4 separate regions of the Homo sapiens genome follow, and regions 1, 3 and 4 are each reported to be linked to region 2. The links are microRNA targets in miRTarBase. Many come from high-throughput screens and were not tested one by one. Region 2 holds a microRNA gene; each other region holds the end of a gene's coding sequence.
What was found. Region 2 holds the annotated microRNA hsa-miR-6739-5p (UGGGAAAGAGAAAGAACAAGUA, at 1,507-1,528, opposite strand). A microRNA usually pairs through its seed, bases 2 to 8, with sites in the 3' UTR of a target mRNA and lowers its output. Matches are read on the target gene's strand: a 7mer-m8 pairs with bases 2 to 8, a 7mer-A1 pairs with bases 2 to 7 and ends in A, and an 8mer does both.

Region 1: the mRNA of BMP2 is a reported target of hsa-miR-6739-5p. Seed matches in the 3' UTR shown: 7mer-A1 at 739-745.
Region 3: miRTarBase lists RPH3A as a target of hsa-miR-6739-5p. Seed matches in the 3' UTR shown: 7mer-m8 at 2,702-2,708, 7mer-A1 at 1,891-1,897, 7mer-m8 at 1,789-1,795 and 7mer-m8 at 1,615-1,621.
Region 4: the mRNA of RMDN1 is a reported target of hsa-miR-6739-5p. Seed matches in the 3' UTR shown: 7mer-A1 at 3,193-3,199, 7mer-A1 at 2,678-2,684 and 7mer-A1 at 1,988-1,994.

The regions. Positions count from the first base shown.
Region 1 is chr20:6,778,454-6,782,453 of GRCh38, forward strand. It overlaps BMP2 (bone morphogenetic protein 2), which reads left to right. Exons shown (of 3, transcript NM_001200.4): 3 at 1-1,793. The coding sequence ends at 636. Among named protein-coding and RNA genes, the nearest start is that of BMP2, 13 kb to the left of the region's middle.
Region 2 is chr1:201,860,756-201,864,905 of GRCh38, reverse strand. MIR6739 (microRNA 6739) reads right to left here and starts at 1,533; the gene lies at 1,459-1,533. IPO9 (importin 9) reads right to left here. Exons shown (of 24, transcript NM_018085.5): 14 at 1,299-1,458.
Region 3 is chr12:112,896,213-112,900,212 of GRCh38, reverse strand. It overlaps RPH3A (rabphilin 3A), which reads right to left. Exons shown (of 22, transcript NM_001143854.2): 22 at 1,332-3,563. The coding sequence ends at 3,433. Among named protein-coding and RNA genes, the nearest start is that of OAS1, 8.7 kb to the left of the region's middle.
Region 4 is chr8:86,470,548-86,474,547 of GRCh38, forward strand. RMDN1 (regulator of microtubule dynamics 1) reads right to left here. Exons shown (of 10, transcript NM_016033.3): 10 at 1,802-3,811. The coding sequence ends at 3,761. Among named protein-coding and RNA genes, the nearest start is that of RMDN1, 36 kb to the right of the region's middle.

The sequences.
Region 1 (4,000 bases), not on the chromosome of region 2:
TTCCCCGTGACCAGACTTTTGGACACCAGGTTGGTGAATCAGAATGCAAGCAGGTGGGAAAGTTTTGATGTCACCCCCGCTGTGATGCGGTGGACTGCACAGGGACACGCCAACCATGGATTCGTGGTGGAAGTGGCCCACTTGGAGGAGAAACAAGGTGTCTCCAAGAGACATGTTAGGATAAGCAGGTCTTTGCACCAAGATGAACACAGCTGGTCACAGATAAGGCCATTGCTAGTAACTTTTGGCCATGATGGAAAAGGGCATCCTCTCCACAAAAGAGAAAAACGTCAAGCCAAACACAAACAGCGGAAACGCCTTAAGTCCAGCTGTAAGAGACACCCTTTGTACGTGGACTTCAGTGACGTGGGGTGGAATGACTGGATTGTGGCTCCCCCGGGGTATCACGCCTTTTACTGCCACGGAGAATGCCCTTTTCCTCTGGCTGATCATCTGAACTCCACTAATCATGCCATTGTTCAGACGTTGGTCAACTCTGTTAACTCTAAGATTCCTAAGGCATGCTGTGTCCCGACAGAACTCAGTGCTATCTCGATGCTGTACCTTGACGAGAATGAAAAGGTTGTATTAAAGAACTATCAGGACATGGTTGTGGAGGGTTGTGGGTGTCGCTAGTACAGCAAAATTAAATACATAAATATATATATATATATATATTTTAGAAAAAAGAAAAAAACAAACAAACAAAAAAACCCCACCCCAGTTGACACTTTAATATTTCCCAATGAAGACTTTATTTATGGAATGGAATGGAAAAAAAAACAGCTATTTTGAAAATATATTTATATCTACGAAAAGAAGTTGGGAAAACAAATATTTTAATCAGAGAATTATTCCTTAAAGATTTAAAATGTATTTAGTTGTACATTTTATATGGGTTCAACCCCAGCACATGAAGTATAATGGTCAGATTTATTTTGTATTTATTTACTATTATAACCACTTTTTAGGAAAAAAATAGCTAATTTGTATTTATATGTAATCAAAAGAAGTATCGGGTTTGTACATAATTTTCCAAAAATTGTAGTTGTTTTCAGTTGTGTGTATTTAAGATGAAAAGTCTACATGGAAGGTTACTCTGGCAAAGTGCTTAGCACGTTTGCTTTTTTGCAGTGCTACTGTTGAGTTCACAAGTTCAAGTCCAGAAAAAAAAAGTGGATAATCCACTCTGCTGACTTTCAAGATTATTATATTATTCAATTCTCAGGAATGTTGCAGAGTGATTGTCCAATCCATGAGAATTTACATCCTTATTAGGTGGAATATTTGGATAAGAACCAGACATTGCTGATCTATTATAGAAACTCTCCTCCTGCCCCTTAATTTACAGAAAGAATAAAGCAGGATCCATAGAAATAATTAGGAAAACGATGAACCTGCAGGAAAGTGAATGATGGTTTGTTGTTCTTCTTTCCTAAATTAGTGATCCCTTCAAAGGGGCTGATCTGGCCAAAGTATTCAATAAAACGTAAGATTTCTTCATTATTGATATTGTGGTCATATATATTTAAAATTGATATCTCGTGGCCCTCATCAAGGGTTGGAAATTTATTTGTGTTTTACCTTTACCTCATCTGAGAGCTCTTTATTCTCCAAAGAACCCAGTTTTCTAACTTTTTGCCCAACACGCAGCAAAATTATGCACATCGTGTTTTCTGCCCACCCTCTGTTCTCTGACCTATCAGCTTGCTTTTCTTTCCAAGGTTGTGTGTTTGAACACATTTCTCCAAATGTTAAACCTATTTCAGATAATAAATATCAAATCTCTGGCATTTCATTCTATAAAGTCCAACCTGTAAGAGAAAATGGTGCATTTGTATAGCGCTTACAATGATGACCTTGTGTTTGCATTTTTGTTTCTGAAGTTATATATTTTAGAGGGGGTGGGGGAAAGGTAATGAATGGCTGGAAAATTGCAGGCAAGTTATTTGATAAGTCATATTTGCACTAAAGGTGTTACCAGTGATTTAGTATTTTTCAAATGAACTTCTTTGGGGCAGAAAGATTTAAGGGAAAACTAAAGCCTACAAAACAAGCAAAACCTGGATAACCCGAGATAAAGTTTCAGAGATAATAGCCCATGCAACAGAGGCAACGGTGCCAGAAAATTAGAAAGGGAAAGTGTCGGAGATCAGCTTCTATAAGAACATCTGCCAGTTGGACTGACGCCCAAACAGAATGAAGTCAAATTAGGCTGCTCAGATTGAACACTTACCAGAGTGTCAGGGCTTCTGTACCCTGGGTTAGAATCAGACCAAGGAAGGGTTCAGCAGATGTTCATAAGAGCAGGGCACCCACAACTACCCACTATTTTACTGGCAGTATTTTAGGTCAGTTTCCAGGACTTTGCATCCCCTCTGATCCTGCCATGCATGATTGGTGAAACCTACCTCTAATCTCCTTGGAATTGGCTAAAAAACAGTGTGTTTATAATGGAACAGACTGTTATAATCAAATTCTTCCTAGGAATTAACTTTTGATGACTATGAGCTTAGTTACAGTTCGGAGGTTATGAGGTTATGTAAACCTTATCTTTAAATGTGCATGACAGTTATCTTTTACTAATGCTGGTTAACTTTTAAAATCTTGCAGCTCCTTTTTATCTCTAGTTCTATTGTTCTTGATTAGGTGAGAACCATTAGATCATACCCAACTGAGGGGATTGGGGTCTTGTTTGTTCTCCAGCTGTTCTTCACCCTCTATTGCCATGGACATGAAGGACAGACTGCACGGTCTTAACATGTTAAAACGAATGACCCATGTTTTCTCATATTCACATTCTCTAGATGAGAGCATGAGAGTATAGCACAAGAATTTCATCCTTTGGCAGTTCCATCCACCCTTTTGATTTCTCTGCTTCATTGGTTCTAATATTCTTGGTTAAAACTGTTTTCAATGGTGTCGACTAAAATGTGTTATCTTGCATATGCGTATTTAATATATAAAACATAAAATACATAAATATACATCTAAAGATGTATGTAATATGTAGTACATATGTATAGATGCTGGCATTTTCAGTTTAGTTTCAGAGATTTTATAATCAGACACTCTGACCCTCTTGGAAGCTCACATGAGAAACAATATTTTTACAAACATCCTACATTGTTACAGACATTTTAGCTCACAGTCTTCATTCCGAGGAATAAAGAGTCAAAATGAACATAACACTGAATGTCTTTAATTGCACTCACTATTCTATAGGATCCTTGGAATCATTTCAGAGTTGGCTTTAAAAAGTCCACACATAGTCATTTCTGAATTTTCAGGGGCCCGCCTTTCAAAATCGGTTAAACTGATCATCTGTTTTTGTGCTTGTCTCGACTGCATGTGCCCCTCTGGCATGGTTTTAACCTGTATGGCACGTCCGGGTTACCATGTTCATTATTTGCCTTCAAAAATTAGGAAAAGAGAGTGTGGGCAGCTTACAGATCTATCTGTGCTTCCATCTTTTCATAATTTCTACTTAAATCGCAGCTTTAAATTGTACCTTAAGAGGTCAAGAATGGAGAGATGATCTGTAAACCTGATCTATATAACAAGCTGTATAATCACTACATTACCTAAGCAATCCATATTTTTTCCCTCAATTTATTACTGGAGAGGGAAAATCATGTGCACAATTCAAAGGGCTTTCAAAAATAGCATATTTCTATGCTACTGGCATATTAATGTTAAGATTCACCGAATGTTTACGTGCCACAGCCTCCTTATCTGTTCTAAGGCAAAAGGAACATAGCCTTGCAGTCAAGAGCAATTAAAGCCTATAGTAATTGTGGCATAGATTCATAATCCAAGAAAAGTTAAGAATGTCCTGGCGCCATTTCTCTTCTGTTTTATATTTATTTATTTATTTATTTATTTATTTTTGTGCAGGGAACGGGTAGGGTGAAATGGGGGATAAGATGCAGGTCTGCTCAGCTTGGGTAAATTGCTTTTCCTCTTTCCTCCACCCTGCTGACATAAATTACAGCCTTTT
Region 2 (4,150 bases):
CTACCCATGTGGTCCAAGAGATATGAACATTAAAAATAAAAGTTTTCTTCACAGTTCTTCTGATTATAAAAGTAATATAAACTTGTTGAAACAAACAAACAAACAAAATATTTTATATATATAACAGAGAATGAAAGTTCTTTGTACTCTAATCTCCCCCAGAGAGAATCAATGTTGGTAAGTATGCCTGATAGGTACTGCTGTCTACCTAAAACACTCTGGAAAGTAATGGGCTTATTTTACCCAAAGTACTTTCACATTCATACCAAACTCCTCTCACAGCTTGCAGCTGCAAACATTTCCATAAAATCACAACACAAAGTGGATAATTCTCCAATGAAATCAAGTTTCACTAAGGTCAGAAGCTAAACAGGCAGTGACCACAGGTACAAACTCAGAAAAACCCTTAAAATAACATTCATGCCTTAAGCAGCTTAGGGCTCTCTCTTCTCAGACATTTAAAATGGTGTTAGAGCTTTCTGAAAAAGCTATACTTAGTTTGCCTCTTAAGATGATACTTCTAATTATTTTAGAGCCAAAGATCTGCTTCACCTAGATTGAAGCAGAAAAAGATGGGACGGTGTTTATGGTCATAACATTAACCATTTAATTAAAACAGGCAGTTCTTGAATGCTTTCTAATGACATATAACACACGGCATCTCAAAAGATACTCCTCTGCCTCAAAAGATAAGACAGGGCAGGCACATGGAAAATAAATTTTGTGTTGGTAGTTATAGGATTCAGTTGAGATGTTTAAGTTTGAGCCTAAGATATTCCTTAAAACAACAATGGTCCTTCTAGTCTGCGTAGGAATATAAATAAATGACTTTTGATCCATTAGTAACACTAGCCTTAAAAAAGATAGGTAAAACTGGGAAAAAATAAGCAGTGTTTCTAGGTCACATTATCCCAGATTTGGTTTCTAATATAATCAACCAACAAAATGATGTGGACTCTAATCCTGCTTCTATCATTCATCAATTGTGCAACCCTGTGCAAAACATTTTTCTCTCCAAACCTCAGGTTCTTCACCATTGAGAGAAAGGGAGTTGCCTAGATGATTCCAGAACTGGAGCGAATTTAAAGAGGAAGAGGAGCAGAAAGGAACAGGACATCTTCTGGACTCACAAAAGCCATGTCTCTAGCATGGTTTCTTTCCCTGTCCTTCCAACATTCACCCTGAAGGATATCATTAGCAGGGATTTCCAAGCAACATAATACACTGGAAAACTGTGATTTGTTATATCTAACCTGAGCAACTTTCCCTTAATTATCACGCTAGGGTAGCATACTCACCCCCAGATGGCTCTCACTGCAGAAATTCGAACTGATGGGGGCTGTGTCTCGTGAAGACCACTAACTGTTGCCTGTAGGAACTGCTGGATCAGTTCAGGGGACATAGCAACAGTGAACCGACTGGCAGCCCAAAGTGCCCGGCCCAAGAGGAAAGGAGACACTGGGAGAAAGACAGAACAATTAGGGGCTGGAAAATGAAAATTCCTTTTACTTGTTCTTTCTCTTTCCCACATTCATTCCTCAATTTTTTTTTTTTGAGATGGAGTCTCACTCTGTCACCCAGGATGGAGTGCGATGGCGTGATCTCGGCTCACTGCAACCTCCGTCCCCCGGGTTCAAGCAACTGTCCTGCCTCAGCCTCCTGAGTAGTTGGGATCACAGGCGCCTGCCACCATGCCCGGCTAATTTTTTGTATTTTTAGTAGAGATGGCGTTTTGCCATGTTGGCCAGGCTGGTCTCAAACTCTGGACCTCAAGTGATCTGTCTGCCTCGGCCTCCCAAAGTGCTGGGATTACAGGCATGAGCCACCGCATCCGGCCCTCCATTCCTCAATTTTTTAGAAGTAAATAGATGCTACATAATATGTACAACTCATTTGAGAGAAAAAGCATAACCTTGTATGATGAAAGCAAATGTGTGACCTGTGGTACAAAATCAATTTCCCAGTTTTCCCTTGTCTCTTCTGAGCAAAGTAGATCTTGAATATTATTAGACTAAAAAGACTTTACCACCCCAGTCCTCACCCCCAGCTCTCATTATTCCTTACCTGTACTACTAGTTAATCTTTTTTTTTTTTTTTTTGAGATGAAGTTTCATTCTTGTTGCCCAGGCTGGAGTGCAACAGTGCGATCTCGGCTCACCACAACCTCCACCTCCCTGGTTCAAGTGATTCTCCTGCCTCAGCCTCCCCAGTAGCTGGGATTACAGGCATGCACCACCACGCCCAGCTAATTTTGTATTTTTAGTAGAGATGGGCTTTCTCCATGTTGGTCAGGCTGGTCTCAAACTCCTGACCTTAGGTGATCTGCCTGCCTTGGCCTCCAAAAGTGCTGGGATTACAGGTGTGAGCCATGGTACCCGCCCACTTAATCTTCTAAGTTGCCATCTCCATTGCTAGTTTATTCCCACTTTTGGACCACTCTTTTTTTTTGAGATGGAGTCTTGCTCTGTTGCCCAGGCTGGAGTGTAGTGGCACAATCTCAGCTCACTGTAACCGCTGCTTCCCGGGTTCGAGCGATTCTCCTGCCTCAGCCTCCCGAGCAGCTGGGATTACAGGTGCGTACCACCACGCCTGGCTAATTTTTGTATTTTTAGTAGAGAGGGGGTTTCACCATGTTGGCCAGGCTGGTCTTGAACTCCTGAACTCAAGCAATCCACTCGGCTTGGCCTCCCAAAGTGCTGAGATTACAGGCATGAGCCACCGCGTGCAGCCTTGGACCACTCTTAAAACATAAATTATAGCTCTGATCATGTCATTCTTCTATTTAAAATCTGTCAATTAATTCCATAGTCCACCAAATAAAGATTACCTTAGTCATCACGTTATTCAAGGCTCCCTAAGATCAGTGACTCTAGCATTACCTATGATTTCCCTTTATGGTTTCCAAACTCAAGTACACATCCCTCCTTAGCAACTTACATCTTACTCTCCCAGCTCTCTGCCTTGTTCATATTGCAAGCCAACATATTCACCTCCTTGCATTACCTAATTCATCTCTTAGGCTGAAGCAATTCTAACTATCTCTATGCCACAGTAATTCTGTCTTTAGTGTTCTTACATGTTATATATTTCGTTTGATAGTCTAGCCACTAATGTAAGGATTACTACCCTTGTTTACTATAAGCTGCTGAGGAGAGACTATTCTTATTCAGCTTGTCACAGGGCTTAACTTGTTTACTCACACAATAAACATCTTGTTGACGGAAAACACTGAACAGAACCTAATAAACTGTGCCAGTCAAATTACGCAATACAGATGCTCCTCTGCTTATGATGGGGTTACTTCCTGATAAACACATCGTAAGTTGAAAATACTGTAAGTTAAAAATGCATTTAAATTTAATACTGAACATCACAGCTTAGCCGGGCCTACCTTAAACATGCTCAGAACACTTACATTAGCGTAAAGTTGGGCAAACTCACGTAACACAAAGCCTATTTTATAATAAAGTGTTGAATATCTCATATAATTTATTGAATACTATACTGTAAGTGAAAACAGAATGGTTGTAAGGGTACTTGAAGTATAATTTCTACTAAATGCATATTGCTTTGGCATCACTGTAAAGATGAAAAATCATAAGTCCAACCACTGTAAGTGAGAAACTGATAATGTACAGAAGCAGTTCCCAAAGGATGGTCCAGAAATTCCCTAAAGTTAAAACTATTTTCACAGTAATACAGAAACATTATTTTTTTCACTTTCATTCCTTCTTTTTTTTGAGACAGAGTCTCGCTCTGTTGCCCAGGCTGGAGCGCACTGGCACAATCTCGGCTCACTGCAACCTCCGCCTCCTGGGTTCAAGCAATTCCTCTACCTCAGCCTCCTGAGTAGCTGGGATTACAGACGCGTGCCACCACGCCCAGCTAATTTTTGTATTTTTAGTAGAGATGGGGTTAGGCCATGTTAGCCAGGCTGGTCTCGAACTCCTGACCTCATGATCCGCCCACCTCAGCCTCCCAAAGTGCTGGGGTTACAGGCATAAGCCACCATGCCCGGCCTCACTTTCATTCTTTCACAAGTATACAGTGGAGTTTTCCAGAGGTTATATGGTATGTGATATCATGGCTCTGACAGCCAGGGGAAAACATGTTTCCATTTCTTTTATTTTAAAAACAACTCAGTTTTAAT
Region 3 (4,000 bases), not on the chromosome of region 2:
CACGCCACCACACCTGGCTAATTTTTGTATTTTTAGTAGAGACAGGGTTTCACCCTGTTGGCCAGACTGGTCTCGAACTCTTGACCTCAGGTGATTCACCCACCTCGGCCTCCCAAAGTGCTGGGATTATAAGCATGAGCTGCTGTGCCCGGCCAGAAAATATTTTCAACTATACACCTTATCCTCAGGGTTTAGCAGAATCTGTGGGGAAAGAAATCTCCCAAGTGAGACTAACATGCCAGCTTTTGCTTTTGAGGGCACAAACAGGAAATGGTCTCAAAGAAAAGAGAATTATCTGTGGGACAGAATTGATGGCTCCTTCTTGAAGTAACCATTACTGATAAATTGCTTAAGCACTTTGGGGATGGATTATAGTGTGATTAAGAATTCTAGAGGCCGGGTGTAGTGGCTCACACCTGTAATCCCAAAACTTTGAGTAGCCAAGGCAAGTGGATCACCTGAGGTCAGGAGTTTGAGACCAGCCTGACCAACATGGCGAAACCCTGCCTCTACTAAAAATATAAAAATTAGCCGGGTGTGGCGGCAAGCACCTGTAGTCCCAGCTACTCGGGAGGCTGAGGCAGGAGAATCACTTGAACCCGGGAGGTGGAGGTTGCAGTGAGCAGAGATTGTGCCACTGTACTCCAGCCTGAGGGACAGAGGGAGACTCCATAATAAAAAAAAAAAAAAAAAAGATTTTTTTTTTCTGGAGAGTCAGTTGCTGACTCAGTTCACCTTCAGGACTATCGAGAATCTCCAATGAGAGAATCATTGTAGGTTGGAAGGTGCTACAATGCAAGGGAGGCATTTGATGGTCCATGCTCATCGATCAGTGTGTGAAGAACACTGGATTCTGGGAGTCCAACGATCGAACTCCTTTCCTGGTATTGCCTTTGTTTAACACTGGACATGGCATTTTCTTCTCTGGACCTTGGTTTCTTCATCTGTCTAAAAAGTGAGTTGATTGAACTAGGTTGTGGCTCAATTGTATGTTCTCTTTTAGCTTTGGCAATTTCTGATTCTGCAACCACCTGGGACGTTTCCCAGGTCTTGTAGCAGCAGGAGGAGGATGAGGATGTTGCCCTCCTGTTTGGTAGGCACCAGCAAAAAGTATTCTTCTAGAAGGGTTTGGAGTCAGCCAAGTTACCTTAGGCCCACCTGCCCAAGATAAAATCCACCATAAAGCAAACTCCTCGTGGGCAGAGAACACATCTGTCGCCAGTGCCTGGAACATAGTAGATGCTCATTAAGTACTGACTATCAGAATAGCATATGTCCTGGTGGGGAGGAGGACTTCGCAGAAACCAGAAAGGAAAACTGCAGACCACTCGTTTTCTTGGATGCTCCTACTTTATTTTTGGCTACATCATCACAAAGAAAGATGCTGGGTGGTTGTGCATGCACCGGAGGACGTGTGTGTATTCTAGGCAGGGAGGTGGTTACATTTGTCGGGGACAGCGGGCACCCAGACTAGGGGCACTGTGAGCTTGCTGCATGCTGATTCCAGCGCCTACACCAGCATCAGGCTTGGGCGACACAGCCAGCATGCTGTCTCCTAAGGGGAAACTGTGGTGAGGGAGGTGGGCTGAGAGTAGGTGCCACCAGGGACTAATGGGGAAAGATAAGGTCAAAAGGAAAGATGGCAGCCAGGAAGCTGTTGGCCACCTTGGGGAAGGTGAAGAGCTCGATGTTTAGAAAATGGTTATTCAAGGCAAGAAATGAGTCCTCCCATGAATTGTGCAGGGAGCTGAGGGTGGAGGGCGTTGAAAAGTTAAGAGATGTGATTTGGGGAAAGTGAGAGTTTGAGTATCTGTCTGATGCTTCTGTAGAGAATGTCAGGGGTTTGGGATGACTGGGAGTGATTTTCATGAGGGAAGACTTCATCAAAATTGGGAAAATCGAACCTTTCTCACAGGGCATTGAAGATTGCCTGACTTCAACCTCAAATTTGTAATGTTTGCCCACATTGCCTTTTCCTCCTTTATAAAATAATTTTTTTTATAGGAAGAAAGTGAAAGATTGATGATGAGCCCAAAGCCTTTGGCATCAGGCCTGTCTCTCTCTACTGTTCCATAGCCATGATATTATTTGATTCTCCCAGGAAGCTTAGTAACGAGAGTGCAGGAGACAGAGAGACAGACAAAGAGAGACAGAGAGACTGGAGGGGGTTCTGAGTGAGAGATGGGATGCAAAAGAGTCAATGAAACAGAGTCAAGGGCATTGGGGAGGAGGGTAGCTTGTTCATTTACCTAAGAGCGGAGAAAGGAGAAAGGCTGGAGGCTTTGGCTGAGGCTTCCTCAGACCCATGGCCCTGGTCTTCTAAATGCCTCCGTGCCCACCCGGGGAGCCCACGGATGAGAGAGTCCTCTATGGGGCATCTACACAGCTTGAGGGATGCTGCCATGCACTCAGGGCAGTGCCAGCCATTGGCCCAAGCCCTGGGAATGTCTGGTTCTGCCAACGGGAGGAGTGGGTCAGTTAAGAAGCGTGGGCCCAAGTGGAATCTCAGGTTTGGGCCAGTTTCTCAGTTTCCTGGTCAGGCTGGTGAGAGCAAGGGGGTGAGGCTAGGTTAACATACACTTTTTTTGCTGTTGTTTTTGCGGTGTTACTGCTTTAGAGAGAGAGAAAGGCAAAGGGAAGAAAGGCAGGGAGAGAAAGGAGAGGGGAGAGGCTGAGAAAGAGAGAATCTACTATCATGGAAGGGAAAGAAGAGGGAGGAGGAGAAAAGGTGACAGAGGAAGGGTTTTTTGTTGTTGTCGTTTGTTTTTGTTTTGCTAGGAAGCACACAGGTGACATTCGGAAAGAGGAGAGCGTCCAAGCCCCTGGTGAATTCTGTGCATTTGCATCCTGGTGCACTTGGAGCAGGGAGGGTGTGTTACTGAACACAGCAGTCTGTTTTCCTGGCAATCAGGGTGTACATCTCAGGGGGCAGTGGGAGCCCGGAGGCTCTATTTGTGCCCCAATGCTTCTCTCACAGCATTGTCCGGGTCTGCTGACAACTGGGGATATACAGAGACACAACACAGGGAATGAAAGGGTGTGTGTGTGTGTGTGTGTGTGTGTGTGTACATGTGTGTGTTCAAGGCTAGGAGGGTCTAAAAACAGTCCTAAATGATGAAGAACCTTTGTAATTTACCCAAACTGAGAGGTTATTAAATGATCAACCTCTTTGTAAACGTCTCCCCAACCCCATCCCCATTGCTCCATCCCAGGGATGAGAGAGGGGCTGTATTCAGAGCCCACATCCCAGCATCAGGGAGGAGGGAGTCTTTGGCAGCAGTGCCCAACGTGACGGGGGCTCAAAGGCAGGCTCAGGGAGATCAGCAGGGTATGGGGGGAGGTAGGCATAGAGAAGAGAGATCAGGGTGCGGTGGGCAGCTAGAGCAGGCTGGGGGGGACCCGGGACATGGAGATGGGGACCTGGGCACTAGCCTAATCACTTGACACGTGGTTCTCATTCTGTAGCTGGTGCCAGCGCTCTATCTTCTTGTCTTTATTTTTCAGACACTCGTACCAGTGTTTTAAGCGCTCTCCCTTGGCAGAGATCCCCAGCTGGCAGCCTCCTGGAGGATAAATGGGAAGATAGGAGCAGGTGGTCAGAATAGAGGTCGTTCTAGACCCAAATGTGTAGTTGGGGAAAAAACTGCACCAAGCAGTGACCCCCAGCAACCTGGGATCCATACTCTATAGAGAGTTGTTATAACGTTGCTGCTGTTGTTGTTATTATTATTACGGTCCTTCTCTGCCTCAAGAACCTGCAATGGCTCCCTACTGTTCCACTGAGTCATAATTTCACTGTCTATTTTTAAAGGCTTTCTACAAATCACCATTCTACTCACTGAAACTTATCTCCCACTACTTCTGGGAACTCATTGTCTATTTCCAAAAAGGTTCATCATCCTGCTCAATCCTGTCTTTACCCCTTAGCTCAGGCTCTGTCCCTTGCCTGGAGTCCCCACCCCCCTGCTTCATCTTTAATTGATTTTCTTCCTCATGATTC
Region 4 (4,000 bases), not on the chromosome of region 2:
GCATGTATCCCAGAGAGATAAAATCTATGTAGACATAAAAACCTGCATATAATGCTCATAGCAGCTTTATTTGTAATAGCTAAAAATCAGGAATAACCTAAATGCCCCTCAGCATATGGTTGATATGGTATGCCCATAAAATGAAATACTAGTCAACTGTAAAAAGAAACAAACTATTGATAGAACTTAGGTCTCAAGGGAATTATGTTGAGTGAAAAAAAGTATCACAGGGTCTCACTGTATGATTCCATTTGTATAACATTGTTGAAATAACAAAATTATGGAGAACAGATTAGTGCTGTCAGAGTTAGGGATGGGTGGGGGAGAGGAGGAGGTAGATGGGTGTGACTGTAAAGGGACAGCACTGGGGATCTTTGTGATGACGGAACAGGTCTGTATCTTGATTATGGTGGCAGTTACCAAAAATCTACATGTGATAGAATTGCATACAACTATACACACAAGAGCATTTAAAAGTGGTAAAATTTAAATATAAGGTCTGTGGTCTGTACCAATGTCAGTTTCCAGGTTTTGCTATTGTACTACAGGTTATATGAGATGTTAGCACTGGGATAGGCTGAGAGAAAGGTACACAGGATCTTTTTTTTTTTTTTTTCAATTTGTGAATCTATGATTTTTTGAAAGTAAAAATATTTTTTAAAGTTCTAATAAGGAATCAGGAGGTAAGACCTCCATAAAAAGCTTTATTATTGAATGATACCTGATCTCACAAAAAACAAACAACTAAGCAGAAAATATTCTTGAACTAACCCAGACCCTTTCTTCCCATTTGATGACCTAGTATTGCTGGTAACTCAACATAAAATTACATCCCTAGGGAAAAAAAATAAAGTCACTCTAAAGAGAAATTGAAAATGAGAAAAAGGAGAGTAAACTTTAACACAATATGCTAATATGAATTAAATTATTAGATATTTAAAAAATCTGAAATAGCAACTTAAAAACTCAGAACTGGACAAACAAAATGCAGATGTGAATGACTGGCTAAAATCAGGAAAAAAATTCGGAGAAAAAGACAAACACATATCAGATGTGAAGGCAATTATAAAGTATCTAAGGAAGAAGAGATACAACCAAATGTAAAATAAGGGATATGGAAGATATAAATGAAAAGAGCCAAGAAAATGAAACAAAAAGGCTAAAAGAAAAATCAGTAAGTGATAAATGTGAAAGTCAGGCAAAGATCTAATAGAACTAATTTGAGTCCTGGAAATAAGTTGGAACAGCGGTTCTCAAAGTGTGGTCAATTAGACCAATCTGGAATGCGAGAGAATCTATGACAACCGGACTGGCCTATTCAAAAAGTCAATGTTGCAAGAAGAAAAAGATGGGGAACTGTTGTGGATGGAAAGATTAGCAACAAATCAAATGCAATGTATAATCTTTGGATCCTGATTTTAGAAAGCATGAGACATCTTGGGGACATTTGAGAAAATTTGAATATGGGTAGATATTAGATGATGTTAGAGAACTGTTAACTTCTCCAGTTGTGATAATGGTTTTGTGTTTGTTTAGGAAGATGTCTTTATTCTGAGAAAATGCATGCTGACACATTTGGGGTGAACTATTATGATGCTTGCAATCAGTTTCAAAAGGTTTAGAAATGTATGTGTCTATACACACACAAACACACATGTATAAATACAGGTTGAACATCCCTATTTCCAAAAATCTGAAACCTGAAATTCGTGCTCCATAATTCAAAACTTTCTGAGCACCAAAATGATGCTACAGGTAGAAAATTCCACATCTGACCTCACATAACAGGTCACAGTCAAAATGCAGGTGCACAACACAGTTTATTCGGTCTCCCTAAAGGAAAAAACCCATTTTAAAAAGCCATCCAGCAGAATGCCACATCCCTAGAAAGACCCACTTCCTGGCCCTTCAGCTGCTTCTGTTTCTCTTCACCTACAAAAATAAAATTACAGTATACAATAACCTTTTAAAATACAGCATCATTAAGTGGGAAACTGAAAGCCTGCCATTGTTGTTGCCGTTTAACAGCTGATACAGGTTTCTGGTGATGCTACTGTTGCCTAGCTACCCTGACCACATTATTTTTTCACTGTATCAGTGGTGTGTCATATTTTTTTTTTTGCCATCCTTGTTCCTGTGCGAGTTATGTCATATTTTTTACTGTTAAGTACTTATGCATGAATAAGTATAAGAAAATAACTGCTTATTGGTAGCATATACATTCAGTCAGGAATGATGGTGACATCAACCAACCACAAATTACCCACATGAGTGGCTGAGATAATGACACCTTTGCTTTCTGATGGTTCAAGGTATGCAAACTTGGTCTCAATGCACAAAATTATTAAAAATAATGTTATATAAAGTTACCTTCAAGCTATGTGCATAAGGTATATATGAAACAAGTGAATTTGTGTTTAAACTTGGGTCCCATCTCCAAGATATCTTATTGTGTGTATGCAGGTATTCCAAAATTTGGAAAAACATCCCAAATCCAAGATGCTTCTACTAGTCCCAAGTATTTCAGATAAGGGATACACAACCTATATAGCAAAATCACTGAATCTAAGAGATGGGTATACAAAGATCACTACTTTCAGTTTTCCTTTTTGTTTGAAAATGTACATGACAAACATATCCATACAGTTCATTGTAACATTACAATTCCCAAATCCTTTGGGAAAAATCCACCTACACACACAGTCTGTCTTTATCTAAGTGGATTCAAGATGCTCCTTTTTACAAAACTTAAAAAGATTTTGCAGTGGTGGCACTCCAGCCTCAAGTGAGTAGCATAGTCCTGCCTATTTAAAAACATCTTAGTATTCCATTTCACTCTTAAGTTTTGTGTTCCTTCCATTCCATTAGGGAATAGAACTTTGCATCTGATGACAAATTCAGTTTACCATGAGACTACACCACATTTAAAGTAAACTGGCCAGGTGCGGTGGCTCACGCCTGTAATCCCAGCAATTTGGGAGGCCAAGGCGGGCAGATCACTTGAGGCCAGGAGTTTGAGACCAGCCTAGCCAACATGGCAAAACCCCATCTCTACCAAAAATACAAAAGTTAGCCGAGTGTGGTGGTACAACCCTGTAATCCCAGCCACTCAGGAGGCTAAGGCAGGAGAATCACTTGAACCCGGGAGGCGGAGGCTGCAGTGGGCCGAGATTGTGCCACTGCACACCAGCCTGGGAAACAAAGTGAGACTCTGTCTCAAAAAAATAAAAAAGGAAACTACTCCATTTTTAGTCATCTCCTTACTTAGTTCTTTACTTACACAGGTTAGCTCCAAGATATATCATTTAACTACTTTATGTCAGGAACCCACAACATCCTAACCACTGTCACCACACCTTCTCTTCAAGATTTCAACTTAGAATCAATCCAATTTGAAAATCCATCCCCCTGTATATCCCCTATAGATCCATTTCCCCTCCTCTACAAATATTTCTTTGCTTGATCTCCCATCCCAATGTGATCAATCCTTAGAAATCTCATACCATTTTGCATTGCTGGTATCCAGGATGCAAAATAATCTCTTTGCCTGAGCCATGGAGATTTATTTCTACCACTCTTATGGCGATTATTTATTTTACCCTATTATTTGTGAAGAAGCCTAGAATATTTTATATTTACACGGTTAAATGGTCACAACATTTAAAAAGCCGTAGAACAGTTATAGTTCATATATTAAGTTTAGAATTAAAAGAAAAGGCAATGTTTATTAGCTATTTCATAAATCTTCTCTGAAAAGTTCTCAATTCTTCTCACTGAAACTTGTAAGCAACTGAGCAGCTTCTGTCTGTATCTAAAATGGAAAAATACATGTTATAAGTAAACAGGAGAGCTAAGAGACTAACTTGTGAAATTTAAGTTTATAAAGTGGGGTTTCTAAGAGTTTCCAAAAACCAGATAGGACATTATAACAATAAAATGTCTTGACAGTGACCAGATGAGACTCTCAGCTCTTCCACTTTAGTACACATCCCATGACTTT